Regions from separate parts of the Homo sapiens genome. Here all the other regions are reported to be linked to region 2. The links are microRNA targets in miRTarBase. Many come from high-throughput screens and were not tested one by one. Region 2 holds a microRNA gene; each other region holds the end of a gene's coding sequence. Distances are between the middles of the regions.

The links. Region 2 holds the annotated microRNA hsa-miR-939-3p (CCCUGGGCCUCUGCUCCCCAG, at 1,516-1,536, opposite strand). A microRNA usually pairs through its seed, bases 2 to 8, with sites in the 3' UTR of a target mRNA and lowers its output. Matches are read on the target gene's strand: a 7mer-m8 pairs with bases 2 to 8, a 7mer-A1 pairs with bases 2 to 7 and ends in A, and an 8mer does both.
Region 1: the mRNA of PHAX is a reported target of hsa-miR-939-3p. Seed matches in the 3' UTR shown: 8mer at 2,126-2,133, 7mer-A1 at 2,619-2,625 and 7mer-A1 at 2,793-2,799.
Region 3: miRTarBase lists PLXNA3 as a target of hsa-miR-939-3p. Seed matches in the 3' UTR shown: 7mer-m8 at 2,971-2,977, 7mer-m8 at 1,721-1,727, 7mer-m8 at 1,392-1,398, 7mer-m8 at 768-774 and 8mer at 256-263.
Region 4: the mRNA of ZNF331 is a reported target of hsa-miR-939-3p. Seed matches in the 3' UTR shown: 7mer-m8 at 1,414-1,420.
Region 5: the mRNA of GPAT4 is a reported target of hsa-miR-939-3p. Seed matches in the 3' UTR shown: 7mer-A1 at 3,069-3,075 and 7mer-A1 at 2,972-2,978.
Region 6: the mRNA of QTRT2 is a reported target of hsa-miR-939-3p. Seed matches in the 3' UTR shown: 7mer-m8 at 2,198-2,204 and 7mer-m8 at 2,612-2,618.
Region 7: the mRNA of REEP4 is a reported target of hsa-miR-939-3p. Seed matches in the 3' UTR shown: 7mer-m8 at 3,288-3,294.

What each region holds. Positions count from the first base shown.
Region 1 is chr5:126,624,041-126,628,151 of GRCh38, forward strand. PHAX (phosphorylated adaptor for RNA export) reads left to right here. Exons shown (of 5, transcript NM_032177.4): 5 at 535-3,212. The coding sequence ends at 804. It also overlaps the pseudogene RPLP1P7. Among named protein-coding and RNA genes, the nearest start is that of SPMIP10, 5.6 kb to the right of the region's middle. RefSeq lists a silencer at 763-963.
Region 2 is chr8:144,392,646-144,396,756 of GRCh38, forward strand. It overlaps MIR939 (microRNA 939), which reads right to left and starts at 1,585; the gene lies at 1,504-1,585. It overlaps CPSF1 (cleavage and polyadenylation specific factor 1), which reads right to left. Exons shown (of 38, transcript NM_013291.3): 25 at 3,953-4,096; 26 at 3,703-3,855; 27 at 2,790-2,906; 28 at 2,620-2,710; 29 at 2,453-2,537; 30 at 2,237-2,378; 31 at 1,999-2,151; 32 at 1,734-1,910; 33 at 1,589-1,655; 34 at 1,468-1,515; 35 at 1,238-1,393; 36 at 1,022-1,151; 37 at 807-945; 38 at 586-720. The coding sequence ends at 673. ADCK5 (aarF domain containing kinase 5) reads left to right here. Exons shown (of 15, transcript NM_174922.5): 13 at 1-52; 14 at 131-247; 15 at 324-597. The coding sequence ends at 429. RefSeq lists silencers at 1,536-1,697, 3,050-3,263.
Region 3 is chrX:154,471,804-154,475,914 of GRCh38, reverse strand. PLXNA3 (plexin A3) reads right to left here. Exons shown (of 33, transcript NM_017514.5): 33 at 1-3,325. The coding sequence ends at 3,230. Among named protein-coding and RNA genes, the nearest start is that of LAGE3, 5.4 kb to the left of the region's middle. RefSeq lists an enhancer at 3,415-3,709.
Region 4 is chr19:53,577,427-53,581,537 of GRCh38, forward strand. It overlaps ZNF331 (zinc finger protein 331), which reads left to right. Exons shown (of 6, transcript NM_001079906.2): 6 at 1-2,843. The coding sequence ends at 526. Among named protein-coding and RNA genes, the nearest start is that of ZNF331, 41 kb to the left of the region's middle. RefSeq lists an enhancer at 1-629.
Region 5 is chr8:41,620,089-41,624,199 of GRCh38, reverse strand. It overlaps GPAT4 (glycerol-3-phosphate acyltransferase 4), which reads right to left. Exons shown (of 13, transcript NM_178819.4): 13 at 1-3,307. The coding sequence ends at 3,199. Among named protein-coding and RNA genes, the nearest start is that of NKX6-3, 29 kb to the left of the region's middle. RefSeq lists an enhancer at 1,100-1,199.
Region 6 is chr3:114,085,221-114,089,331 of GRCh38, forward strand. QTRT2 (queuine tRNA-ribosyltransferase accessory subunit 2) reads left to right here. Exons shown (of 10, transcript NM_024638.4): 10 at 453-3,202. The coding sequence ends at 684. Among named protein-coding and RNA genes, the nearest start is that of QTRT2, 31 kb to the left of the region's middle.
Region 7 is chr8:22,134,989-22,139,064 of GRCh38, forward strand. It overlaps REEP4 (receptor accessory protein 4), which reads right to left. Exons shown (of 8, transcript NM_025232.4): 6 at 3,938-4,073; 7 at 3,651-3,805; 8 at 3,032-3,564. The coding sequence ends at 3,499. Among named protein-coding and RNA genes, the nearest start is that of REEP4, 4.9 kb to the right of the region's middle.

The DNA of each region.
Region 1 (4,111 bases), not on the chromosome of region 2:
CTCTGCTGCCCAGGCTGGAGTGCAGTGGCACAGTCTCGGCTCACTGCAACCTCTGTCTCCTGGGTTCAAATGATCCTCCTGCCTCAGCCTCCCTAGTAGCTGAGACTACAGGTGTGTGCCACCACAGCCGGCTACTTTTTGTATTTTTAGGAGAGACAGGGTTTCACCATGTTGGCCAGGCTGGTCTGCAACTCCTGACCTCAAGTGAACCACCCACCTCCGCCTCCCAAAGTGCTGGGATTACAGGCATGAGTCACCATGCCCAGCCTTCATTTAGGAAATTTTTAACTGTAGAGATGATACATTAAGGTAGAATAAGCATGGGCCCTAAACCTAACACTAGGCTGGGTTTAAATCAGTTTCAATCTTGCAATGAGTACTTACTTAATATCTTGAACTCCATCTTAATAATGAGCCTAATAATACTTGTATTTTTTGTAAGAAATGGAGATAATGATTTTAAAGGGACAGTCATGGAATAAACCTTTAATAACGTGGTAGTTCTTGTTTACTAACTTTGTTCCTTTATTACAGGACATTTTCTACATTGAAAACCAAAAGGAATATGAAAATAAAAAAGCTGCTAGGAAGAGGAGAACACAAGTGTTGGGGAAAAAGATGAAACAAGCTATTAAAAGTCTAAATTTTCAAGAAGATGATGATACATCACGAGAAACTTTTGCAAGTGACACGAATGAGGCCTTGGCCTCTCTTGATGAGTCACAGGAAGGACATGCAGAAGCCAAGTTGGAGGCAGAGGAAGCCATTGAAGTTGATCATTCTCATGATTTGGACATCTTTTAAGTACATTTTCAACAGTTTGAGGACTAAGCCTTTCTAAAATAACATTGTAATAAACCATTTTTACTGAGATTGCAACGTTTTGCACTGATAAACATGAGAATCTGGAGGAAAGACAATTGTTTTCTTGTTTAAAATATGTGTGGAAAGGAATGCAATTGATAGAACATTTAAAGATATATCTGACAAAATACTTAAGAGTATATAGCACAGGATTTAATTTCTCAATCTGTTGCATGTGCTAATTATGAGTATTACTAGTTGATAATCAGTTTTGTCTAGGTCATAACATACCATTTGTAAGTTTGTTTGCTTTTTCAGGTTTATCTTTGCAGTGAATTATGCTTTGCTTTAAAACATTCCGCTAAAATCATAATGGGACATATAAATTATTAAGCTGTTAGAAATGCATTCAAATTTGTTTTTTCTGTGTTCTAAGAACTCAGGCAATTTTAAGGATAAAAACTAACATTGGCCAGGCACGGTGGCTCACGCCTGTAATCCCAACACTTTAGGAGACCAAGGCGGGCAGATCACTTGAGGTCAGAAGTTTGAGACCAGCCAGGCCAACATGGTGAAACTTCATCTCTACTAAAAATACAAAAACTAGCCAGGTGTGGTTCTCCATGCCTATAATCCCGGCTACTCGGGAGGCTGAGGCAGGAGAATCACCTGAACCCGGGAGGCAAAGGTTGCAGTGAGCTGAGATCGTACCACTGTACTCCAGCCTGGGCGACAGAGCAAGACTCTGTCTCAAAAAAAAAAAAAAATACAATTAAGAGGTGTATACTGATGATTCTTCCCACTCATTTGTTTGTCCAGAAGTAAATAAATGTCGGAAGTTTTCCAAGTAACTATTTGTTTTTTGGGGGGTTTTTTAGTTAGAGTCTTGATCTGTCACCCAGGCTGGAGTACAGTGGCAGGATCTCAGCTTACTGCAGCTTCCATCTCCCAGGTTCAAGCGATCATGTGCCTAAGCCTCCTGAGTAGCTGGGATCACAGGTGTGTACCACCACGCCCAGCTGATTTTTGTATTTTTAGTAAAGACTTTCGCCATGTTGTCCAGGCTGGTCTCGAACTCCTGGCCTAATGATCTGCCCACCTCTGCCTCCCAAAGTGCTGGGATCACAGGCATGAGCCACCGAACCCAGCCTTATTCTGCTTAAATTTAACGTGTTTTTTGACTTCTTAATTAACTTGGTCATATACTAAATGTGATCTCCTGTGGATTACCACATGCATTAAAAAATTTTTCAAGCTGGGCCTAGTGGCGCACACCTGCAATCCCAACACTTTGGGAGGCCAAGAGAGGAAGATTGCTTGAGCCCAGGAGTTTGAGACCAATCTAGGCAATGTAGTGAGACCCTGTCTCTAATTTAAAAAAGAAAAAGAAAAAAACATTCCCAGTGGCAGCCTGCCTAAGACTGTCTTACCTTATGTTAAGGAAGTCAGGTATTTAAAATGTTACATATGCCGGCGCAGTGGCTCATGTGTGTAATCCCAGCACTCTGGGAGGCTGAGACAGGTAGATCATTTGAGGTCAGGAGTTCAAAACCAACCTGGTCTACATGGTGAAACCCCATCTCAACTAAAAATACAAAAAATACAAAAAATTAGCCGGGCGCGGTGGCTCACACCTGTAATCCCAGCACTTTGGGAGGTGGAGGCGGGTGGATCACAAGGTCAAGAGATCGAGACCATCCTGGCCAACATGGTGAAACCCTGTCTCTATTAAAAATACAAAAATTAGCTGGGCGTGGTGGCGCATGCCTGTAGTCCCAACTACTAGGGAGGCTGAGGCAGGAGAATCACTTGAACCCAGGAGGTGGAGGTTGCAGTGAGCCGAGATCACGCCACTGCACTCCAGCCTGGCGACAGAGCGAGACTCCCTCTCAAAAAAAAAAAAAAAAATACAAAAAATTAGCCGGGCATTGTGGTGCATGCCTGTAATCTCAGCTATTTGGGAGGCCGAGGCAGGAGAATCACTTGAACCCAGGAGGCAGAGGTTGCAGTGAGTCGAGATCGTGCCACTGCACTCCAGCCTGGGTGACAGAGCAAGACTTTGTCTCAAAAATAATAATAGTAAAATGTTACATGTGCATGAAGTTTTAAATTACTCATTTTTATTAATGAAGAAAATAAGGTAGTTTAGACATTCCAAGAGTTAACTATAGTTTACAAAAATATATTAAGCAAAAATATGCTTGATATATTAAGCAGAAATGTTGTATATTAAGCAAAAATGTAAAATTCAGCAATTATAAACTGTTCCTTACAGACAGTGTACTTGAAGTCTTTTGGTAGTTCTGAGAATGTGGTCATTGAAGTTGGATCTAAGAGGAAAGTGGTTATCGGTTGCTTTTTATTTATAAAGGATGCAAAAATAAAATTAGATTTTTGGCAGTCCTTAATGAGCTTCAAGTGATTATATTTTTAAATCTTGAATGTTTTTTCATAAAAATGCTATAGCCAAGAAAAATATTTTTAAAAGGTAATTGGATATTGACCCTAAGACAATTTATGGGAGGTGATTTTAGAAATAGTACATTAAGAAAGATAATTATTCTGAATACTTAAATGCCACATATTAATGTAAATATTGCCAATTTTTCTAGCAAAAGTTATGCCTTTTAAAGGGCGTTGATGCCTGAAGCTACTTTATCTTCATCAAGATTGTTTCTTCCCCACACCTTCCTGGTTTTTTAGCAATAGTTGTTTTTTTTTTTCTTTTTCTTTTTTTTTAAGACGGAGTTTTCACTTTTGTTGCCTAGGCTGGAATGCAATGGCACCATCTCAGCTCACTGCAACCTCCGCCTCCCGAGTTCAAGCGATTCTCCTGCTTCAGCCTCCCAAGTGGCTGGGATTACAAGCACACGCCACCACACCCAGCTAATTTTTTTGTATTTTTAGTAGAGACAGGGTTTCACCATGTTGGCCAGGCTGGTCTCAAACTCCTGACCTCAGGTGATCCACCTGCCTCAGCCTCCCAAAGTGTTGGGATTACAGGCATGAGCTACCACGCCCAGCCAATAGTTGTTTCTTTAACATTTGGAAACCACTCAGATTTCTGGCTTGTGTTGCATCCTACTGCCATACAGAAAGCAGTGCTTCAATTTTTAAGGTTATTTCTTTTTTTCAAAGTTTAGGTTTTTATTGAATATGCTGTAAAAGAGGTTTAGTCAAAAAGACCAAAGCCCATGTCCTCATCAGATTCCTCGGATTCTTCTTTCTTTGCTTCCACTTTCTTCTCAACTGAAGCAGCAGCAGTGGAGGGGGTAGGATCTCCAGCTGCTGCAAGTCCACCAGCCCT
Region 2 (4,111 bases):
TCAACGTGGCCCTCGGCGCCCCCGTGGACCGCTACTTCCTTATGGCTAAAAGGTCGGTGGCCCGAGGAGGCGCCCGGGCCGTGGTGGGGCTGGTGTGGGGCTGACGCGGCGCTAACGCGGGTGTGTGCAGGGCTGTCCGGGGCTGGAGCCGCCTGGCGGGCGCCACGTATCGGGGTGTCTACGGCACCAGCCTCCTGCGCCACGCCAAGGTCGTCTGGGAGATGCTCAAGTTTGAAGTGGCGCTCAGGTGAGTGGCCGCGGGGCAGGTGGGTGGCGGGGGCCTGCTCCCCACCCACCTGTGACCTGTGACCTGACCCACGCAGGCTGGAGACCTTGGCCATGCGGCTGACCGCCCTCCTGGCTCGTGCTCTGGTCCACCTGAGCCTCGTGCCCCCAGCGGAGGAGCTCTACCAGTACCTGGAGACCTAGGGTGCAGCCGCCCAGGGCCGGCGGGGCCCTTTTCACCTTGGGCTGACGGAGGTGGCGGGGCTAGAGGTGTAGACACCCCGAGCCCCGTGGGCACTCGCACTGGGGGGCTGTGACAGCAGCTGGGCCAGGAGGCCGTGTAATGACCACACACTCCTCTCAAGCAAAAAATGTTTTTCCTTGTGTTTTGTACAAAAAGGGGGTGGGAGGTAGTTCCGTGTGCTGGTGGTGACGGCATCCACGGGGCTAGAAGTGGGCGGTGACGCGGTCCGTCTCCAGCAAGTCGTCCAGGATCTGCAGGGGATGGAAGGGTGGGTGGGTGGGTGGGTGGGGATGCACACGGAGGGGCGGGGCGCGCGGGGGGCGGGGCGCGCACTCACTATGTCTGGTGTGGTGCCGATCTTCTTGGCTAGCTCGCTGCGCTCCATGGTGCTCAGGTACAGGTAGCGGTTGAGCAGCTCCCCATCCAGCACGTTGCGCACGGCATTCTGGAGGGTGCGGCGGTCCACGTGCAGCATCCTGGGGCGTACAGGCACAGGTGTCAGGGCAGGCTGGGGTGGAGGGGGTGCTGCACGGGGGCGGGGCCGGGGCTCACCGGAAGGCGCGGGGGTTGAGGCCGGCGTGGTGTGGCAGCATGGTGGTCAGCGCGTTCTGCAGCATCAGCAGCCGCCGGTAGGTCTTCTCCTGCATGGGCAGCAGCAGCCCGATGCCGCCGTCCAGGGTGGCTGGCAGGGGTAGGGTGAGGGTTTTGGTGTGAGCCAGGCCAACCCTAGGGCCCCCCACCCAGACACACCTGCTCCCCCACACTCACCAAACCACGTGATGTGCTTATTCTCCCACACGACCGACTTTTTGCTGAGCCCTTCAGTGGCCCCCCGGCACGGGGTCCTCCAGAACGTGTTCACGTGGGCACCCACGTGGAAGTCTGCCCGACGCAGCAGGCGCATGCCCCCGAAACTCTCCTTGGCTAGACCAGAAAGGCCTAGGGGTCACTGCTAGCCCAGCCCCGGCCCAGGCAGAGGGGGTGGAGGAAGCACTCACCTTCGGGCAGGTACATGTACACCATGAGGTTGCGGTCGCGGTCAGACACTGGGGAGCAGAGGCCCAGGGTCAGCCCCGGCCACCCCCAGAGCCTCAGCTCCCCAGGGCCCTGCCCACATACCCAGAAAACCCAGCTGGGCATTGTCCACCATGAAGTCCACGCTGTACACCTCCAGGGGCTTGGCATCCTGGGGGCGGGAAGGGGGCGTCAGAGGTGCCTTGGGCGGGTACCCACCCAGACACGAGCACCGCCGCCACAGGTGTACCCGCGACACCAGGCTCAGCGTCTTGCTTTCCTCCTGGTAGCGCAGCAGCGAAATGCTCTTCATGACGTCGGCTGCCAGGATGAAGTTCTTGACGCTGATCATCTGGTGTATGTAGAGCTGCGTGTCGATGAAGGCCATGCCCGTCAGCTCGCTGGCCCGCAGGCTCCACAGGAAAATCTGGGGGCGAGGGCGAGGGTGAGCGGGCGCGGACGGGGAGCCGGGTGAGGGTGAGCCGGGGGACACACGCCGGGTGGGACTGGCACACCTTCTGGCCGATGGCCGACACCAGGTGGCCATTGCAGTGGCACAGGGCGGTCACGGGCCCCTTCTGCTCCTTCTCGTAAAGGACTTTGAACTTGTTCTTGGTCAAGGGCTGGCCAGGCTCGGGCACCACCTCAATCACATCCATGATCAAGATCTGGAGGGCATGGGTATGGCTGTGGGATGGCTGTGGGGATGGCAGAGGGGCTGCCAGTTCCCGCCCCCGCTCACTGGCCCCTTACCCGCCCTCGGCACGTGACCTCCTCCCCCTGCATGAGGCAGGTCCCGGCGGCCACGTAGCCTTTGAGGCCCGACACGGTCTCCTCACTGCGCAGAGACACTGTCTTCATGCAGGTCACATGCTCCCACTCCTGCAGCTCGATCCTGTGGGGGCCAGGGGCCTCAGGATGCTGCCTGGAGGCCTTGGGCAGACCCCACCCCCGCCGGCCCAGCCTCACCTGGCATTGGGAATAGCCTCCCAGCTGACCGGGGAGATGAGCTGGATGGAGAAGGCCTCCTGCTGGGGGTGGATGTACCGCTCATCTGTGGGGACCAAGGGTGACAGTCAGAGTAGGGCTTCCCCAAGATGCGGCTGAGGATGGGAGTATGGTGTGGGCGTCACCACCTCTCTCGATGGTCTCAAACTCCTTCTCCTCGCCAGTCATGCGTGGGATGCGGGCACACGGCGTGTTGGTGCTGGTGGCCACAGCATACACCTGTGGGTTAGTGAGGGTCACACACCAGTGGCCCGGCCAGGCCCAGAAGGTCCCTGGTGGGGTGGGGGTGGGGGCAGACCTTAGACTCCACGTGGTAAGCCACATAGTGGGCCGTGCAGCGCAGCGGGATCTTCCTGACAGGCCATGGGGCATCATAGGACAGGTAGGCAGGCAGGACACTGATCCTCAGCTCGCCCTGGGGTGGGGGCACAGGGGTCAGGGGATCCAGGGCTAGCCAAGGGCAGGGGCAGGCAGGCCCAGGCCGCCAAGAGCCCTGGGATGTTGCCCTCAGCTCTGTGGGAGCAGGGGTGGGTGAGGGGCAGCTGTGTCCTGGCGAGGTCCTGGAAGGGGCTGCCACTCAGCCTCTGGGGCTCCTCCTGTCCATTTTCCCACGCTCAGCTGGGGCTAGGGGTGCTGGCCACAGGGGATGGGAAAGCTAGGCCAGGAGGGCACTGGAGGCTGCAAAGGGCAGCCCACAGACTGCCATGCTGGGGACTGAAAACCAGGCAGAGGGAGCCAGGGCTGCCCTCTTTCATGGACAGTCCTGAGTCCTCAGGCACCCAGGAAGCACTCACCGCATCCCAGGCAGGGTCTCAAGTGACCTGGTGGTGTGGTGGCTTAAATAGGGAACCAGGATGAGAAAGCCTGTGTGCCCTCCCAAAGTCACAGAGCAGCCAAGGGGCAGAGCTAGCACTCACGTCAGCTCTCCTGAGAAGTGTGGAGGCCAGGCCCTGCGAGGGCTTGCCCGGCGAGCCGGCAGAGCAGTGGTGGGGACCCCAGGGGCTGCAGCCCCAGCTCCCAACCACCCCTTTCCAGACCTTTGGAGCAACCAAGTCACAGGTTCCACCTCCTCGACCTCAACCCCATCGCCCTCTGGACACTCCTTCCTGGTCCTCAGGGTGGAGCCAATGGTCCCTTCTCCTGTCCCCTCCCCCTCAGCCCCCAGCTGGGGCAGCATCAGCCAGTGCTGCTGGGAACCGGCCGGGCCCCACCTGTCTGTTGAAGTACAGGAAGCCGCGGGGACAGTTGACATTGTGGAATGGAGCGAAAGAGTCGACCGGGCCGTCGATGGCCATGGGGTGTAGCCGCAGAGCCCCTCGGCCGGTCACCAAGAGCCAGTGAGGGGAGGGGCCGCAGATGAAGACCTGGGGGCAGGCACCGTGAGGATGCTGTGGATGAGGATGCTGCGGATGAGGCCGCGTCTCCCTTCTACCACAGACCCCTGCAAAGGCGCTGGCCTACCCCTGAGTAGCCATAAATATCCTCGAAGTAGCGGAAACGCGCCACGCGGCCCCGGGCCCCAGCCCCCTCCTCTGCGCCGCCACCTTCTGCTTTCTTCTTGGATGGCTTTGGCTTCTTCTCACGGAAGTTGATGTTGTGAGGGACCTGGGGGGGAACCAT
Region 3 (4,111 bases), not on the chromosome of region 2:
TGACAAGTGCGAGCCACCACACCTGGCCCCAATTTAGCTCTGTTTCCCTTCCTCTTCCTCTCATGATGCTTCTGGTAGATTCCATCCATTTCTGAGGGATTTCCCCTGAGGTTAAAACTGCCTTGTTTTCCTGTGGCTTAGTTGTCATTATCATATGATGGTAGTATTTTCAACCATCTCCCTTATCCTCTGTCCTCTGTCCAGATGGTTCTGTCTGGGCCGACGGCACAGCTGTCATCCCGCAACTTCTCTTTATCCTGGGCTACAATCCAGTCCTGCCTCACACGTCCTTCTCTTTATTATTTTACTCCTTATTTGTGCAGTTGGTTGTTATGTGGACTTGTCTAGTTTTGGTAAACACCTACGGTCCTATAACCACCACCACTGTCTGGCACCGTGGCCCCACAGCTGGACGGCTGGAGCTGGCAGCTTTTAAACCCAACTCAGGTGGCTGTCCAAGCCACCCTATTTAAAATTGCATCTCAAAAAAAAACAAAAACAAAAAAAGAAGAAAGGCCAGGAACAGTGGCTCATGCCTGTAATCCCAGCACTTTGGGAGGCTGAGGCGGGCGGATCACCTGAGGTCGGGAGCTCGAGACCAGCCTGACCAACATGGAGAAACCCTGTGTCTACTAAAAATACAAAATTAGCTGGGCGTGGTGGCACATGCCTGTAATCTCAGCTACTCAGGAGGCTGAGGCAGGAGAATCACTTGAACCCGGGAGGCGGAGGTTGCGGTGAGCCAAGATCATACCATTGCACTCCAGCCTGGGCAACAAGAGTGAAACTCTGTCTCAAAAAAAAAAAAAAAAAAAATTGCATCTCACTTGGCTGGGCACAGTGGCTCACAACTGTAATCCCAGAATTTTGGGAGGCCAAAACAGGAGGATCACTTGAGCCCAGGAGGTTCAAAACCAGCAAGACTCCATCTCTACTAAAGAAAAAAAAAAAAAACAAAAAACAGCTGGGTATGGTGGCAAGCACTTGTAATCCTAGCTACTCAGAAGGCTGAGGCAGGAAGATCACTTGAGCCCAGGACATCAAGGCTGCAGTGAGTTGATTTTGCCACTGCACTCCAGCGTGGGCAACAGGGCAAGATCCCGTCTCCAAAAAAAAAAAAAAAAAAAAAAAAAAAAAAGGTCAGGCATGGTGGCTCACGCCTGTAATCCCAGCACTTTGGGAGGCTGAGGCAGGTGGATCACGAGGTCAGGAGATCGAGACCATCCTGGCTAACACAGTAAAACCCCGTCTCTACTAAAAATACAAAAAATTAGCCGGGCGTGGTGGTGGGCACCTGTAGTTCCAGCTATTCGGGAGGCTGAGGCAGGAGAATGGCGTGAACCTGGGAGGCGGAGCTTGCAGTGAGCCGAGATCATGCCACTGCACTCCAGCCTGGGCGACAGAGCGACACTCCGTCAAAGAAAAAAAAAAAAACATAAAAAGTAAAAATAAGATTCCATCTCACCTGGCCGGGCACAGTGGCTCATGCCTGTAATCCCAATACTTTGGGAGGCTGAGGGGTGAGGATCACTTGAGACCAGGAATTCAAGACCAGCCTGAACAACATAGCGGCAACCTATCTCAAAAAAAAAAAAAAAAAAAGCCTGGCATAGTAGAGTGCACTAATACACCCAGCTATTCAGGAGGCTGAGGTGGGAGGATCACTTGAGCCCAGGAGTTTGAGACTGCACTGAGCTGTGATCTTGCCACTGCACTCCAGCCTGGGCAACACAGCTACACTCTGTCTCAAAATAAATAAATAAATAAATTGCATGTCACCTTCTCCCCACCTGCATTACTTAACAGGCCTGGGAGTAAGACTTTGGTAGGTGCACCATGATGGGTGCCACAACCTCGACAGTATGCAATTGTCAGGTTTTGAAGGAGCTGGCTGCAGCTGAAACCGCCGGAGGGTTCTAAACAGTGAGGCAACATGATCCACCTTATATCATAACAGGATCTCTCTGCCTCCCACGCTGAGAACAGGCTGAAGAGAGCCAGGGCAGAAGCAGGGAGACTGGCATCCAGGCAGAGATAGACGATGGCACAGGAGAGCTGGGTGGGGGTGGTGGAAGGGAGGAGAATCTATCTACCTTGAATCTGTCTTGAAGGTAGAGCCACCGGGGTTTGCTGATGGGTCGGGTATGGCCCTGAACCTCCCCAAACCCTCTGGGACCCTGCAAGGAGTGGTCCTTTCTCCCACAATGGGGCTCCAGCTCATGCAGCATCCACAGGTCTACTGACCTGCCCCAAGGACAGAGCCCCACATGGATGGCATTTCCCCAACATTTAATCAGGAAAAAACATTCCATGAACAAAGAAAAACTCATGCAACTAAAGAGGAGAGAACGGGGGGTCTGGGACTGTCAGACAGGGCCAGATTCCTCAGAGGAGGCAGAAGACACAGAGTAGTAAGGCACGGCCGCCTTGGCCCCACAGGGCGGGCACTGGACGGAGCGGGCGCTGAATGGGGCGGCTGAAGGAGTCGGAGCAGGTGCAGACAACACTGAGGACGTTTGGCAGTAGGCTCAGGAGGAGGAGCGTTCTAGGGCCCCCAGGCCCAAGTCAGGCCCTGGCACAAGCCTGAGTCCAGCCCTCCAGGTGCTCAGAGAGAATAGGGCCCCGAGATGCTTGAGGGGGACCCTGTGGTCCAGCGTGGCACAGCCACAATTCTGAGGAAGCTTTGGAGGCCTCACCCCAAGTGCTGCTGGTACCGTGACCCCGCCTTGGAATGGGTGGGGTCAGCCATGGCAAGGGTGAGGTGCCAGAGGCCAGACCGAGGCTGATAATGCTACACAAAGGAGCCCAGACGGGTGGCAGGGCCCAGGACAGCTCAAGAAGAGGCAGGTGAGTGAGGGTGGCGACATCCGGTGGGGGGACACATATTTACAGATGGAGACAGAGGCGAAGTTCGATTCAATAAATAGGCAGAGGGATATAAATAGCAGGGAGGGTGGGACTGTCCCAACACCTGGGCACAGGGCAGGAGGGTGGGGGTATTGCTGCTGCTGGGGTGGGGGCTCGCCCTGTCACCCCTCCCCCTGCAGGGCCCAAAGCAAGGCACTAATGAAGGGGGCCTGGGTGTGCCGGGGGCATCGTGGCCAGGGTGACCTGCCCCACGATACCCAATCCAGGGCTCAGCCCGGGGACCCAGGCTTGAGCCAGCCACTCCCCTGGATGGGAGGACGGCACAGGACTGAGAAGCCCCCTCCTCACCGATTCCACCACCTTAGCTGTCGCTGGACACGAGGCTGATGATCTGTTCCAGTTTCTGCCGCAACTTATGCTTCCGACAAGAGGCATCTCGGTCCAGAGCCGTGAGAATCTGGGGGAGAGGAGTCCCCTGGAGCTGGGCTCTGTAGGGGGCGCAGCTCCTGCCATGCAAAGTCCCCACTTCCCAGCTGGGCTCCTCCCTCCCACACGCCTCATCCCTCCGTCCTCCCCCGCAGCCCCTGTACAAACCCACCAGCTCTCCCCAGCCCCAAATGCCCCTCCGACGACAGCACTTTCTCCTCCTCCTCTCCACAGCTAGGGTGCGGCCTGTCCCTAGAGTGACCTGGACTCTGGACTCGCCGTGCTGGATTCCCCCTCCCATTACCTCCTAGCCCAAGCCTCCCTCGCGCCAGGACCCCGTGACCCTCGCCAGACCCAGTGAGTGTTCTGCAGGTCACCATCCTTCACCAGCAGCAGCACTGGAAGATGGAGCCGGCCACTGCCACTCCCTGACCTGTGAGGGGTCCTCACTGGCTCAGGTTGCCAGACCCCACCAGGCGCTCTCAGGCATCCTCCCCGCTGGCTGCTGCACCTCCCCTCCCCTCCCCTCTTTGTGTCCTGGGGCCCTGGGCTCAGTGTTTGGGCCGCTTCTCCCTCCACACCCACTTGTGGCTTCCCTGTGAGCTCATCCAGGCTCAGGGCTTTAAATGCCATCCACAGGCTTGCAAATGTGTCCAGCCCAGACTCCATCCTAAAGTCCACACCTCTATGTCCTCCTGCCTCTGGCTATTTCTCATCACAAAGCCTGACCCATCCCTTCCAGTGCTCAGGCCCTTTAACTTTTGCCCAGTGGCCACTTTGTACCCAGCCAGTGGCTTATCTCCTGGGTCCCTCAAAT
Region 4 (4,111 bases), not on the chromosome of region 2:
TAAAAGAATTCACACAGGTGAGAAACCCTATGAATGTCAAGAATGTGGGAAGGCCTTTACTCGAGTCAATTACCTTACTCAGCATCAGAAGATCCACACCGGTGAGAAGCCTCACGAATGTAAGGAGTGTGGGAAGGCCTTTCGCTGGGGTTCGAGCCTCGTTAAGCACGAGAGGATACATACGGGCGAGAAGCCGTACAAGTGCACAGAATGTGGGAAGGCCTTCAATTGTGGCTATCACCTCACTCAGCACGAGAGAATCCACACAGGCGAAACCCCGTATAAATGTAAGGAGTGTGGGAAGGCTTTCATTTATGGATCGAGCCTCGTGAAACATGAGAGAATTCATACCGGGGTGAAACCCTATGGGTGTACAGAATGTGGGAAGAGCTTTAGTCACGGCCATCAGCTTACACAACATCAGAAAACGCACAGTGGGGCGAAATCCTACGAATGTAAGGAGTGCGGGAAGGCATGTAACCACCTAAACCATCTCCGAGAACATCAGAGGATCCACAACAGTTGAAGAGCCTTTTGAACGCAGTAGCCCGCTCGTATCTATGGTTTCGCTTTCCACAGTTTGTTACCTGCAGTCAACTGCAGTTCAAAAATATTAAATGGAAAATTCCAGAAATAAAGAATTTTAAGTCTCAAATGGTGTGCCCTTCTGAGTAGCGTGATGAAATCTCTCGCTGTCCGGCTCCAGCCGGCCGGGGATGTGAGTCATCCCTTGGTCCAGCACATCCACGCTGTATACGCCACCCACCCTGCTAGTGACTTAGTAGCCGTCTTGGTGATCAGATCAACTATCCCAGCATCACAGTGCCTGTGCCCAAGCAGTCCTCACTTTGCTTAACAGTGGCCCCAGAGAGCAGGAGTAGTGATGCTGGTGATTCGGATATGCCAAAGAGAAGCCACAAAGTGCTTCCTTTTAAATGAAAAGGTGAAAGTTCTCAACTTAAAAAAGAAAAGAAAAAAATCATATACTGAGGTTGCTAAGATCTACATGACAATAAGATATTTTGGGAGAGAGATACGTTCACATAATTTTATTACATATATTGTTACAATTGTTCTATTTTGTTAGTTACTGTTGGTAATCTCTTACTGTGCCTAATTTATAAATTAAACTTTAGATATGTATGTACAGGAAAAAATGTAGTATATAGTATCGTATATATGTACAGGAAAAAAACGTACTATCTGTGGTTTCAGGTGTCCACTGCGGGTCTTCAAACGTACCCCCCTCAGGTGAGAGGGGACTGCTGTACAAAGAATATAGGAAGGCCTCTAGACTACATCCATTCCTTCCTCAACAGGAGGAAAATTCCTGGTACAGTTTAACGTAAGGCTTCACTGATCACTGTTGTTTTTGTTTTTGTTTTTGTTTTTTTGAGACAGAGTCTCACTCTTGCCCAGGCTGGAGTGCAGTGGCACGGTCTTGGCTCACTGCAACCTCCACCTCCCAGGTTCCAGCAATTCTCCTGCCTCAGCCTCCCCAGTAGCTGGGATTACAGACATGCACCACCACACCTGGCTAATTTTTGTATTTTTAGTAGAGACAGTTTTCACCATGTTGTCCAGGCTGGTCTCAACTCCTGACCTCAGGTGATCCACCCACCTTGCCCTCCCAAAGTGCTAGGATTACAGGCGTGAGCCACTGCACCTAGCCCACTGATCACTCTTCTGCTTACAGAATATCAGAAGTCATTCTAGAGGCAAATTTGAAGAGTGGAAAAATCACTTTTTCTGAATGATCTTGTTTTTGGTGTAGATGTTTTTATTGTGTGGGTTAGTTTAATGAATACATAAAGACTACCAGTACCATTCTGTCTTTACTCCGTGGCATCTGTGGAATAACCCTGCTAATGTAACACGTGAGAAAGCCTTTGGTCATGCCACCCACTCTACCAGTTGTCCCCACCATCCCCCGCCCTCCTCCCTGTGAGACACTGGGCCAAAGGCTCACTACCCCTGTGCGTTGTCCAGCACACAGACACTATGTGCATTATTTGTACATAAGGATAATCACATCTACCTGAGACTGCTATCATGGAAATTAAATGTTTGGTACATGTAAAGTCTTTGAAAGTGTAACTGGAATATTGTGTAATTTTAATAAATAATAACTATTGTTGTTTTTATGATCATTACTACCATTTGTGTTGCCATTAGTGAATTTTTACAAGAAAACTCCCTGTGGGTGCAATGAGTCTGGAAAAGACCATTGAGTCTTCTAGAAGAAAACATTAAGAGATTATTGGCACAGCCGTGGGTTACGCAATGATTTCTTAGTACACAAAACACAGCAAACATAAAAAGTTGTTACACTTCATCAAAAGTACAAAGTTCTGTTCATCAAATGATGCTGTTAAGATAGGGAAAAGACAAGAAACAGGACTGGAAGAAGATGTTTGCTCTAAGGTACACCTGACAAAGGAACTCTCATAGAAAATATAAAGAATCCCTCAAGTTGAAAAAAAAATCAATTTAAAGGGGAGAAAACTTCAGCACGTCTCAACAGAAGACCACCAAATGGCCAATAAGTAAGTGAAAATGTATTCAATGTCATTGCTCCTCAAGGAACTGTAGAGTAAAACCACAATGTGCTGTCACTCTAGACAGTCACCAGGATGATTAAATTTAAATCACAATAACAAGGCTGATTTCAGATGTCTCACCACAAAGAAGGAGGATAAGGGAGCGAGGTGATGGATATGTTAATTAGCTTGATTTAATCCTTCCACATTGTATACATGTATCAGAACATCACATTGTACTCCATCAATATAATACAATTATTATTTGTCAATCAAATATTAATAAAATCAAAGATGAGCAGGTCTCTTTGTTGGATATTCAAACACGACCTATTCAAGAAGGAACCCCGCCAGCAGACTGGACCTCTGCTAAACCCTAGCGGTGCCCACAGCAGGGACAGCGCGGGAGGGAGGTGAGCGGACTGGTCCTGGGGACGGGGTCAGGGCCCAGAGTAGAGTTGTTACAGGAAAGGGGTGCCAATCCAGACCCCAGGAGAGAGTTCTTGGATCTCACACAAGAAAGAATTCAGGACAAGTCCTCAGTGCAAAGCAAAAGCAACTTTATTAAGAAAGTAAAGTGGTGGGACCAGGTGCGGTGGCTCACGCCTGTAATCCCAGCACTTTGGGAGGCCGAGGTGGGTAGATCACCTGAGGTCGGGAGTTCAAGACCAGCCTGGCCAACATGGCAAGACCCCATCTCTACTATAAATACAAAATTAGCCAGGTGTGTGGGCACACATCTGCAGTCCAGCTACTCGAGAGGCTGAGCCAGGAGAATCACTTGAACCCGGGAGGCAGAGGTTGCAGTGAGCTGAGATCACACCACTGCACTCCAGCCTGGGCGACAGAGGGAGGCTCCATCTCAAAAACAGAAAAAGTGGCGAAAGGACAGCTACTCCACAGACAGTGTTGGACGCTCCTGACGTTAGGAGGAACGCATCCACCCTAGGTCCAATGCTCACATATATGGGGAGACGTGCTCTGCTACAAGGGTTTGTGATGAAGGATTCATTCTCTTCATTATTTTGCAAGAATTGATATTATCTTTAAAGCAAAACTAGGAATGCCTTTGTTCTCCAGATATCAGGATATCTGGACACTCCCAAGTGTGGGTCTGTTTAGTAACTGTTAATAATTTGTTCCCTTAACCGTAAACATCTGGAGGCTCGGAATTGCCTACATTTCTCAGAATGCAGCCCAGCAAGTCTCAGCCTCATTTTCCTAGCCCGCACTCAAAATGGAGTCGCTCTGGTTCAAACACCTCTGACAGAGTCCTGGGGGAGGTGCGGACACAGACTCAGGGGAGAGACCTGAACTATCTTAAGATGGTCCTAGGCTGAGGGTAGGATTACCTTAGGGAAAGGACCAGAGCCCATAGTAGGAATCGGAGAATATGGATTGGGGAGGACTCTAGACCCCATGGGAGTGAGTTTGACGGGGCAGAGGAGTGGCTAATGGGCATGGGAGGGCCTGGCTAGAGCTCAGGGATGAATTCTGGGAGAGAAGGGATAGAGGCCTGGAGAGAGGCCTTGGGGCTGGGAGAGGACTGGAGTGCTCCTGAGAGCAGCTGC
Region 5 (4,111 bases), 100 Mb from region 2:
AAGTCCCAAGGCTGGTTCTGCTGTCAAGGGAATCCCACTAGCTTTATTAAAAAGTTCCCTCTTGGCTGGGCGCAGTGGCTCACGCCTGTAATCCCAGAACTTTGGGAGGCCAAGGAGAGTGGATCACCTGAGGTCAGGAGTTGGAGACCAGCCTGACCAACATGGTGAAACCCAGTCTCTACTAAATACAAAAAATTAGCTGGGTGTGGTGGTGCATGCCTGTAATCTCAGCTACTTGGAGGCTGAGGCAGAAGAATCACTTGAACCCGGGAGGTAGAGGTTGCAGTGGAGCTGAGATTGTGCCATTGCACTCCAGCATGGGCAACAAGAGTGAAACTCCGTGTTTAAAAAAAAAAAAAAAGTTCCCTAACTGGTGGGTGGAAAGTCTCATGTTTGAGTAAAAAAGGCTGTCTGAGAACCACAATGAAGATACTGCCCAGCCTGAGAGCAGTATGGCCCCAGCCCCATGGCTGCCTAAAGCCCTTGAGGTCACCCTCAAGTGGGTTAGTTCCACTAGCCCTGATGTTTTAGAGAAGCAATGGATTCAAAGCTGACTTCCCGTATTTCCAAACCCAGAAGACTTCAGAGATCAAAGCCAAAGTTTGAACTATGGGCTTAAAAACAGAGAATTCAGAGGTGGACGAGGTCTCTGAGGTCATCTAGCCAAGTCCCTAGTTATGACTCAGGAGACGGATGCAGAGAAGTGAAGGTGCAGCAGGCTTGGAGGGGGGTTAGCAGCTGACCAGCACTTTCCACTCATTACACCACTGGGTGTCATTCCCAGCTCAGCCCCACCCTTGCTGGGGTAACAGGAGGGAACACATTATTTTGTACTTTGCATGTTTCTAAGTGTCTTGAGTTTTTGCCCCATAAGACCAACTCGGTTACCCCAAACCAGATACTCTGACTATGGGTCACTTGGGGCTTGCAGGACCCCTAATTTAAAAGGATGGAGCAGTCGCCTGGATGATGGTAAAAGGCATACACGGAAAGGGGAGGTTACGTTTCTGCAGGCGTGAATCAGTGCTCTCCTCACTGCCCGGCCCGCACAGGACTTCCCTCCACAGCACTGACTCCACGTGACTTCACACCAGGTGCGGCCACACCTGCCGGCAGGGGCCGCAGACAGCTGTGCTGAATGTGAGACAAAAGCAAAACCTGTGTGTGTGTGTATATATAAATACCTATGCAAATCACGAAAGTAACAAACCATAAAGTTTCAGATGAACTTTTTAAAAGAGAACCTGATCTTTTAAGACCAATTACTGATCCCTCCAGTTGGTTTACAAACACTGTAAACATCACCTATAAAAGCTGAAAATCACTTTTTATTCTTAAGCATTTTGTAAAACAGTTCCTAAGAGACTTATTAGTCATAACACTGACTTTATTTTTTCAGTCTTCATTTGAGAGCAAAAAGATTTCCCCCGGGCTGGCAACAGGGCAGGTGAGGAAATGGGAGGCTCTCCCAGGGAGGTCACAGGTAGGTGCAGAGAAAAGGAGATTGCAGGGCCAACCCAGCAGGTACCACATGCAAAGTGGATCTGTCTGCAGCCCCAGGAGCACAGCTTCACTCCCACCCACTCCCTGAACTGCAGGCCAGAGGGCGACCTTGGGGACGTGACACTCAGCACCACAGGCACAAAATCCTGAGAGGCATCATGACTGTGCCACGAGGGAGCATGGGTCCCAAGTGAGGGCTGGTGGGGCATGAATGGGGAGCTGAGGAGCATGAAACTGGTGAAACCCCAGAACCCACAGGGGCTGCTTGGCCTTGGCTCTGCCTCCACTGTGACTGTACAGCAGGCACCAGTGGCCGACTCTTTTCCTGTGGTGCCTGCTCTGGCTGTGCAGAAGCTGCCATGCAGCACATGCCCTGCCCACCCTGCCCCTCTGCAGCCCTCCCCTGTCCCTCCCCTGCAGAAGCCACCATGCAGCACAGGCCCTGCCCCGCCCCGGCCCCTCTGCAGCCCTCCCCGGGCCCTTGCTCCTCCCCCACCCTGGAGTTTACTCATTGCTTCCCCTAGGCCTCACATCAGCGACCCGCACACACCCCGTCTCTGGAGAAATCCACGTCTGTGCTGGAAATTCTAAATTAACCAAAGATCTGCAAGCATCTGAGACGAGCTGTTCACCTTCTGAGCTGCAGGGTTCCTCGCTCCAGCAGTCAGTTGGCTTCTCCGCAGCCCCAGGGCCATGCTCCCAGAAGAGAACGGGAATCCTCACGAGAAGCCTGCTACTCAGGGCCACAGCCAGGGGAGAAAGTAAAGGGAGAAGTCCCCCAGTTCATTCACCAGCCAGTTTTATTTACTCACAAGAACAAATCCAAAGCCCAGTGCAGCAGCTCTGAGCTCAGGCCTGCCGTGCCCCGTTTTGTGGGCCTGTACTTGAAACACTGAACGTGATGTGTCCTTCACTCACCCGCAGCACTTTAATCCCCACAACAGCCCTGTGAGGTAGGAATCACCACCATTCCCCCCGACTCATATTACAGATGGGGAAACCGAGACACACATTCAACAAAGCGCGCATCACATGGGGAGTTCAGGGTTAGCCTGGAGTACGAACACACGTTCTCCCCATGGCCCAGTCAGCGGCCCACCTGGCCTCTTCCCCTCCCTTTAGTAACCCCATCAGCAGCAGCATAAAAATCTAACCCTTCATTTTGCTGAAAGCCCCTGCAGATGACAGTTTCCTTCCTATCATGTCTGCAGAGCTCCAAGGCTGGGGGCGATGTTGAGGCCGAAGCCAGCCACAGTGCCTCAGCTGTGCCTTTCCTGGAGAGCGGGTGGCCGCCCCCAGCACATCCCTGGCACACGGGCTTGCATAACAGACTCTTGTACCGCCATCTCTAGCACAAGACCATGGCCACATCTCCCCAACCACTCAGCCCGCACAGCGTGCAAAGGTGGGGAGTTCACTTTAATGGCATTCCTCCAACGACTTATTGTAAAAGAAACAAGGCATCTCGTCCTGGGTCGCAACACCCAGCAGCATCCGTTTAGACCACCAAGGGTAGGCTGCGCCGGGTGCACAGGGATCCCGCTGCGGCTCGGCGAAAGCCGGAGTCCTGGGATCCAGAGCAGCCCGGGGAGCCCTGGAGTCTGGAAAGGACACAGCAGTGGGGGCGGCGGCGGCAACTCCAGCTCTGAGCCCGTTGGCACCCCGCACGGTGGCCCCAGCCAGCTGGAGGCAGGCTCAGGAGCGGCTCCTGTCCTTGTGGTTCCCCACGATCATCTTGCTGTACAGCTTCTGCTGCTCCTCCTTGAACGTGTCCTTCACCTTCTCCCTCTTCAGGCCCCCATCCCTGGAGAGACAAAGGCTGGATGTAGTAACAGCCAAGAGGGCTCCCAGCCACGCTCACACCATGGGAGATGCACCATGCTGCCCAAACACCAAGAAAAACCTGCCAGAAACAGGGTACCCCGTGGCACTCTCACCAAGACAACCTCAGGGGATTTGGGGCTCCGGGATCCCAATATCCACCCTTTCTATCTCAAAAGGTCTACCCTTGCCCTTGGGTGAGAATTTACTACTCACATTCAAGGTACTTGATAACTGCTTAAACCTACCAAGGAGTTTACAATTCTTTCTACTCTAACATTCATCTTCACCTCACAAAGGAAAAGGAGGAATTCTGGCATTATGGAAGGTAGACATGCTTTAAGAAATATCGACTCATAACGTATCTGTAAAATCTATCTGTAAAATGTCATTTGTTTAATTCAGACCCAGGGATACTCTGAACTCATGCAGAGAGCTAACACAAGGGGTAACGCGTGTTCTGACTTCTTCCATGCTCAAAAAAAGAGTGCCGTCAGGAATGGAGGTTTACCTCCGGGGCTGCCTCTCAGAGTTCCAGCCTCACTGCCCCCGTGCCTCCCTGCAGCAGCCCCAAACCAACCCACCAGACTTGGGATTGTTTCATTACAGTCCCATTGCCTCTTGCCTGCTGGCCCCCTCCGTGCCTACACTCTAGAATTATCACCACCTTCAACAACTTATAAAAATCCAAGCCCGCTTTCAGTCTCTCCGCTACACCCTTTAAAATCCATAGCAAAGGCATAGATTTTAAAAGCAGCCACTCTGTCTTTGTTAAACTTCAGAGATG
Region 6 (4,111 bases), not on the chromosome of region 2:
TTTTTGAGATGGAGTCTCGCTCTGTTGCCCAGGCTGGAGTGCAGTGGTGCGATCTTGGCTCACCACAACCTCTGCCCCCTGGGTTCAAGCGATTCTCCTGCCTCAGCCTCCCGAGTAGCTGGGACTACAGGCACGCGCCACCATGCCTGGCTAATTTTTGTATTTTTAGTACAGACGGGGTTTCGCCATATTGGCCAGGCTGGTCTTGAACTCCTGACCTCGTGATCCGCCTGCCCCGGCCTCCCAAAATGCTGGGATTACAGGCATGAGCCACCACACCCGGCCCTTTGTTAACTTTTAACCATATTGCCATTTTAAGCAGGTGCACAGCACTGAACATTTGCCAGTGATGTTATTAACCACTGGTAACTTTACCAGCAGAATAGATAGCTGAGGTTGTGGATTTCTTGTATTCCGTACTTTCTGGAATGTCACTGTGACTTCTTTCTTAGGTACCAGGAGGACTTTAACCCGCTGGTGAGAGGATGTTCCTGTTACTGCTGTAAGAATCACACTCGGGCATACATCCACCATCTGCTGGTGACCAATGAGCTGCTGGCCGGAGTCCTGCTTATGATGCACAACTTTGAACACTACTTTGGGTTTTTCCATTACATCCGGGAAGCACTAAAAAGTGACAAACTGGCACAGTTGAAAGAGCTCATCCACAGGCAAGCATCTTGAGATCTTGCAAATACAAGTCTCACTCTTCACACTGAGCCTGTACCACTGTTGTAACATGGGAAGACGTGAAGAAGAAATAATCTGAGCTTTAATTATTTATATTTGGATATAAGGTCTGCTTAAATAAAGAATCTTTGTACCAAACTGCCCACATGAGGGTGAAGAGATTTCCTCAAAAGACTTAAATGACCTGGATTGATCAGAGAGAATTGAACTGTGACCTTTAAGACTTCTAGACTAATTCTTTTAGTTGATAGAGATTCATTTAGTCAAAGACAAAAGCTTTAACTGTGAGGGCACAGCCTTGAAGTGGGAGTGATGAGATTCTGAGGGACCCATGAATTGGATTGAGGCTTGAGGGGAAATGGTGTGAGACGAATGGGCTCTGGACATATGCCTGTTGATTTGAGAAGAAATCTGGCTGGTTTGAGGGTTTCCTTTAGTTCACCCTCATACTCTCAGGAGACTCTTCTGGATACTTTTGTCTTCCACCCTGCCCTGGCAGTGCAGCCAATCAGAAATGGCTCTTGTGACTTAACTGGGCTTGGATATCCCTGGAATGTGGGGCTTGAACATTGCTCCTGTGATGATCATCTGTCCCAGGTCACACTCCTTCATTTGACCACATGGCCTATTTGCAACTTCTTTTTAGAGCCAATGTAATTGCCTGTTAGGAGCCAGAAGTTTGCCCAGCTGCTTTCTTCTGGTTGTACAGATCCATTGTGGTCTGCCTTCCAGGCTCATTAATAGTCTAACTACGTAATAACTGAAGACCTATCTCTTGTGAAGATTCATTCTCAATGTGTTCACTTGGACAGAGCCCTGCCTGGCCTAACGATTAGAGGGTTAGTCTCCATCCTGCTCAGATATGACTCCTGGGCAATTCACTTAACTTCTCCATGGCTGCTTCCTGCTGAATAAATAGGGACAGGCATAATGGATAGGAATGAATGAACTTTTAAGATACTGTCTAGCTCTAAAATTGGAAGAACAAAAAGTTTTAGATTAGAGTCATAGCCTTAATAGCCCTAGTTGTCATCCTGGGAGACAGGCAACAGTAGAGATATTTGAGAGCCTAAAGAGAGGTTTGGCCTGTGGGTTTTTAAGTGGTTATTGAATTGGTATCAGGAGATCCTGAGGCTGGTAGGGGAAGGTAATTCTTTCTAAGTTACCTCTGTATTTTTCAAGTTTTCTATAAGGAATACACATACACCCACATGCACACACCATAGTTTTTATACAAACAGCAATAACAAAACCAAAAAGATGCCCCTTTTTTTGTAGGGATAAGAAATACATTTGTTTTATACTTCTATGCTATATTTTGCTATTCAAAATTTAGTGGGCATTACTTAACATTGTTTCTAATTATTTTGTGGCTGCTGTATGTTTTATGTGTTGGGAGCCCATTGTATTAGGCCGTTCTTGGATTGCTATAAAGAAATACCTGAGACTGGGTAATTTGGTTTTTTGGTTTTTTGGGGTTTTTTTTGAGACGGAGCCTTGCTCTGTCGCCCAGGCTGGAGTGCAGTGGCGCGATCTCGGCTCTATGCAACCTCCACCTCCTGGGTTCATGCCATTCTCCTGCCTCAGCCTCCCGAGTAGCTGGGACTACAGGCGCCCGCCACCATGCCTGGCTAATTTTTTATATTTTTAGTAGAGATGGGGTTTCACCGTATGAGCCAGGATGGTCTCGATCTCCTGACCTCATGATCCACAAGACTGGGTAATCTGTAAAGAAAAGAGGTTTAATTGGCTCATGGCTCTGCAGGCTTTACAGGAAGCATGGTACTGGCATCTGCTTGGTTTCTGGGGAGGCCTCCGGAAGCTTATAGTCATGACAGAAGGTGAAGGGGGAGCAGGCACATCACATGACAAAAGCAGGAACAAGACTCAGAGCAAGAAGTCACTTATCACCAAGGGGATGGCCCAGGCCATTCATGAGGGATCCACCTTTGTGCTCCAAACACCTCCCACCAGGCCCCACCTCCAGTATTGGGGATTACATTTCAACTTGAGGTTTGGGCGGGAACAAATAGTCAAATTATATTACCCATCTACATGGTTTTCTTTTTCTTAGTATGGGAGTGTCCATGAATAAATTCATGGGCATCCTCATAACTCTTCCATGAATGGCAAGGGGTACTTATGGAAAACAGTTTTCCAAAGATCTGATTGTTTTGAAATGTGTTAGATTGGACTTGTTCAAATGTTCATATTTTTGTTCTATGCTAAATGCATCGTTAGGGGAGTAGTGGTAAATATTCCAGAATCCATATGAAATTCATGAGTTTATTTATGTCTAAAACACTGAAAACTGTGTCCAATATCGTTCAGTTTCCTGGGTCTTTTTCTTATTAGCACATTTGAGAAAAATATTCCTTTCCTTTATTGTAGTAAATCTATTAAAGGCAATAGCCAATAAAACATTTTTAATTTTAAAAATTTACTGTGTTTGGCTTTCTGTAAATGTAGTAGGTCTGTTAAACAAAATATTAAATTTCCATAGTACCAGAAATGTTGTAGAGATTTCTCATTGGAAGAAAAAAATGTTTATCTGTATTCATTGTTTTGAGAGCTTCCATGATAAATGTAAAATCCAAAAAGATATTTAATTATATACATTATGAAGATTCCCTTATCTATCTTTATTAATCTGTTCTTGTGTTTCTATAAAGAAATACCAGAGGCTGGGTAATTTATAAGGGAAAGAGGTTTAGTTGGCTTACAGTTCTACAGGCTGTATAGGAAGCATGGCACCAGCATCTGCTCCTGGTGAGGGCTTCAGGAAGCTTACAATTGTGGTGGCAGGCAAAGGGGAAGCTGGTGTATCACATGGTGAGAGAATGAGGAGGTCCCAGACTCAAACAACCAGATCTCATGTGAACTGAGGGAGAATGCACTCATCACCAAGGAGATAGTGTTAAGCCATTCATGAGGGGTGTACCCAGATACCTCCCACCAGGCCCCACCTTCAACACTGGGGATTACATTTCACCATGAGATTTGGAGGGGACAAACATCCAAGCCATATCACTTACCTCTTTAAGTTATGTAATTATGAGCCTTAAGGCCATGCTAGCACATAATAAAAATAATAATCACAATATGGAGTATTTTAAATGTGCCAGGCATCTTGGTAAATGCTTTTCATATATAACTATTGACTGTTAGAGCATGGCTGTGAGGTGTTGCTATTGTCCTATGGGCTATATGTGCTAGTGCTAGTTATTCCCTACAGGAAAAGCTGAAGCCAGCTATTTAAGAACTGAATTTTAAGAGGGTTGAGTAGCCTGCCTGAGTGCCTACCAGATATTTCAGGAAAGAAATAGTTTGCCTAAGGGCCTACCACTACTCAGCTCCCAGGTAGACTCTAGCTCCACAGTTATCCACTGTACTAAATAAATTCTTAATTTTGACTTGCTTC
Region 7 (4,076 bases), 120 Mb from region 2:
TCACCAGCAAAACTCCTCCAGGCTTCTTAGGTATTGGCCCTGTGCTGGGCGCTGGGGGTGTTGGGCTTGTTCATGAATGATTACAAGATGCTTCTAGTCCCACCCTGGGGAAGTCAGGGGAACTTCATGGAGGAGATCAGAGAATGAGATCAGGACTTCACCACCCAGTCGCGAAGTTACAAAAGTATTTCACTTCGGTTAGACCATTTGTTCCAGGCTGAGCTACAACAGTGTGTAAAATACGTCTGTCCTTTATGAAGTCACAACACAGTGGGGGAGAAAAGGTCACATGCTCAAGGCAACAACAGAAGTCTGTGCAAGAACAGAGGTGGTGTGGTCCAGACAGCAAACCACTCCGAGGTGAGGGAGTGCTTGCGGAGGGCTTCCAGTGGAGGTGATGTCTCAGTGGGGTTCAAAGGGCAAGTAGAAATGGGACAGAGTTGGATGGTGGAGGAAGAGCATGTCAGAGGCCAGCACGCATAGGGCCACACGGAGCCATGAGACAGTCTGATGAGATGGTGAGGACAAGGCATCGCAAGCTCTGCCAAGGGGCCTGGGTGGCCGTGTGGCCCCCTCCAAGCACCCATCCTAGGAGGGAGGGCAAGTGAAGCCCCCACCCCAGTGAAATCTCCCTCACCACCCCACGACTTCAGGCCTCTCCCCAACTCTTGTTTTCTTTTACTCCGTTTTGTTTTGCCATTCATCATATGCCCTTCTGGGTTTGTTATTTTTTTTTTTTTTCTGGAGATGGAGTCTTGCTATGTCACCCAGGCTAGAGTGCAGTGGTGCAATCTCGGCTCACTGCAACATCTGCCTCCCGGGCTCAAGCGATTCTTGTGCCTCAGCCTCCCAAGTAGCTTGGATTACAGGCACGCGCCACCATGCCCGGCTAATTTTTGTTTTTTTTAGTAGAGACAGGTTTTCACCATGTTGGCCAGCTGGTCTCGAACTCCTGACCTCAGGTGATCCATCCGCCTCAGCCTCCCAAAGTGCTGGGATTACAAGGGTGAGCCACTGTGCCCGGCGCCCCTCTGGTTTTGTTCTCTTGGTTTGGGTACATGGATCCTGCCAGCCCGCCTCTATCAACGCAACTCCCAGGCAGAGGTGCATCAGGAGTCAGGGTCCCCGACTCACAAGCAGCACAATGGTACACAAGTTGTTGTGGCTCTCCAAGCCTCGGTTTTTCATCTGTAAAATGGGTATAGCCCTGTGGGTGCAGTGGCTCATGCCTGTAATCCCAGCACTTTCAGAGTTCAAGGCAGATGGATCACTTGAGCCCCAGAATTCAAGAACAGCTTGGGCAACATAGTGAGACCCCGTCTTTACCAAAAAAATATGGTAATTAGCCAGGTGTGATGGAGAGTGCCCGCAGTCCAAGCTACTCAGGAGGCTGAGGTGGGAGGATCCCTTAAGTCCGGGAGTTCGAGGCTGCAGTGTACTATGATCATTCCACTGTATTCTAGCATGGGTGATTCAGTGAGAACCTGTTTTAAAAAATGGATATAGTCCCTATTTGACAGGCTTGTTGGGAGGATTCAAGGAAATCATCTCTGTAAAATGCCCAGCACAAGGTCAGGCACACAACAAATATTCCATACATGTTAGTCTCCATGTCCTTGCCTCCCAGGCAGGAATCATCTCCTTCACTCTGGTACTGCTTAGTGATTAAGTGCACAGACTCTGGAGCCAGACTGCCTGATTCCAAGCCCTTCTGCTATGTACTAGCTATGTGACCTTGGGCAAATCACTTGCCCTCTCTGTGCCTGTTTTCCTGTTTGGAAAATGGAGACTGTAAGACTAGTGTGTACCCACCCCCCAAAGATCGTTATGAGAATTAAATTAATATATGCCAGGGGCTTAGAGCAGCGTCTGCGTGGGCAGCCACACTCTGGGCGCCAGCCGTTACTACTGCCTGCATCCCTGCAGTGTCTGGCAACATGTCTGGTACCTGCTCGAGGCTCAATAAAGATTCATTTTTGAATGAATTAATGAAGCGATAAGACAACCCCACGATGCAAAGGCAGGCCATGTTGGACGCCAGTGAGCCCCTATACGTGAGAAGCTAAATCACCGCAGCAGATTAAGAGCCTCCCCCAAATAAAACCTGGATAATCCCCACACCAAGAGTTAATCCACACTCTCTGGGGCCACTCCAGGTTACCACCCCATTTCCCCTCTTCTCATCCCACACTCTCACCCACCTCTTTGCTTAATCAATCAAAAGCAGGGAGGAGGAGCAGGTGCAGCAGTGGCAGAGGGGCGCACCCCGGGCATCATGGTGAGACCAGCACCGGGGCAGTAGAGGGCAGAGCTGGGTACCCCGGTTGCCCCAGGGATCGGAGGAGTTGGAGTGGAGCCAGCCAGGCAAACAGCCTTGGTCTCAGGAGAGCAGAGACTCCTTGGATGGGGCAGGCCAAGGACCAGTGACCACAAGCAGCAGGGAGGGCCACTGAGTTCCGCCAGGCCCAGCAGGGCGAGGCTCTGGCCAGTCTCCCAACCCCACCCTCCTTGACCTGGAAGCCGGGGGCAGCCCAGATCCCAGACACTGCTGCCCTCTCGTGGCCACTCCTCAGAGGTGCAATGGTGCCCCTGCGGGTACCTGACTGTTTACAGAACTTAATGTCCCCAGAGCTGCCCCAGGGGGCTCCTTCTTCCAGGCTCCTGGAGGAGATACTCCTCCCCAGGTCTCCTCTGCCTAGCTTCGACCTCCCTATGGGACTAACGTGCTGCCCCAAGCCCCTCCTGCCTGTGCTCCCACTGGTTTCTCTATAGCTGCACCTTCCTGCCAAGGCCTAACTGAAGTTTCGGGTTCTGACCAGTCCTCTGGACTCGTCCCCACTTTCCCATCAGTGCTCTCAAAACTCCCCAAAAGCTCCTTCGTGAAACCATGTGCTGCATCACAACTCTCTGTCAATGGTTCTGTCTCCCCCAGAGGACTGGGCTCCTTCAGCCTTAGACCTAGGCTAGGACTGGGCTGTCCCATTTCAAGGGTGTGAGGCGAGCAACGGGAGTAAGAATCAGGAGAAACAGAGCCCCTTTATGTATTTATTTATCAAAACACTCGCAAACCTGACCTCACTCACCAACACACACACACACAACCAGGACACATGTGCCAGGCCTTATGAAAGGCTATCAAGTACTTTGAAGGACAGGAAGGAATGAACACACCCAGGTGGACGTTTGGTTTCATTTGCAGGGGTTCAGGGAGGGTTGCAGGGGTTCAGGGAGGGCTCTTGTCCCACAACCGGGGAAGGGAGAGGGCAGAGCAAGGCAATAAATAGAACCCTGGGCCCAGCCTGCTTTGGTACATTGTGGGTGCATCCCTGCATGTGGCCTTGGCAGCATCTGCTCCCGGCCCTTAACCATCAGCAGGAGTCAGGAGGGTGGGGCCCAGGCAGCTGGTGCAGGCAGGCCAGATGTGCAGCCCAAGGTCCCTCCAAATAGCCCTGGAGCCCTGCAGGGCACGAGGTAAGAAGGGGGCAGATGCAGCAGACCCTAGCTGTCCACGTCTGAGGGCACAGTCTTTTTCCTCGTCCGAACCTTCAGGGAGCGCGAGGTGCCCTGGGGAAAGGGGAGGCACAGCATGAGGGTGTGGGGAGCACCAGCCAGCAGAGCCCTCCTCCCTCCTGTCGTCCTCCCACACTGACCTCCCGCACCGGTGGCTTCCTCTTGACCACACGCAGGCTCTGGCTGCGGATTAGGGGCTTCTCTCGGGGCCGGGCTGGCGCCCGGGGGACTGCCTCAGTATCTGACCAACACTCATCCTCGGTGTCGCTGTCCTGCAGGCCCCCGGCCCGGTACCCTGTGTGGAGGAGGAGGTGAAGCTGAAAGCCTGCGACCAGGCCAGCCCTTCCTCGAGCCTTGGGGGAAGCCATGGTGTGAGTGAAGGAAGCCATCCCTCCTGGCATGGCTCTGGGCCCCTCTGCCCGCTCACCAATGGGTGGCCTCCGGTGGGACACCTGGTCCTCCAGGTAGAGGGGGTCATGGTAGGCAGGGGCAGGTGCGTCAGAGATGGAGCGCAGGTCCTGCATGGAGAAGCTCCGCAGCCTGCCGGCCAGCGCCCCCTGACTCTG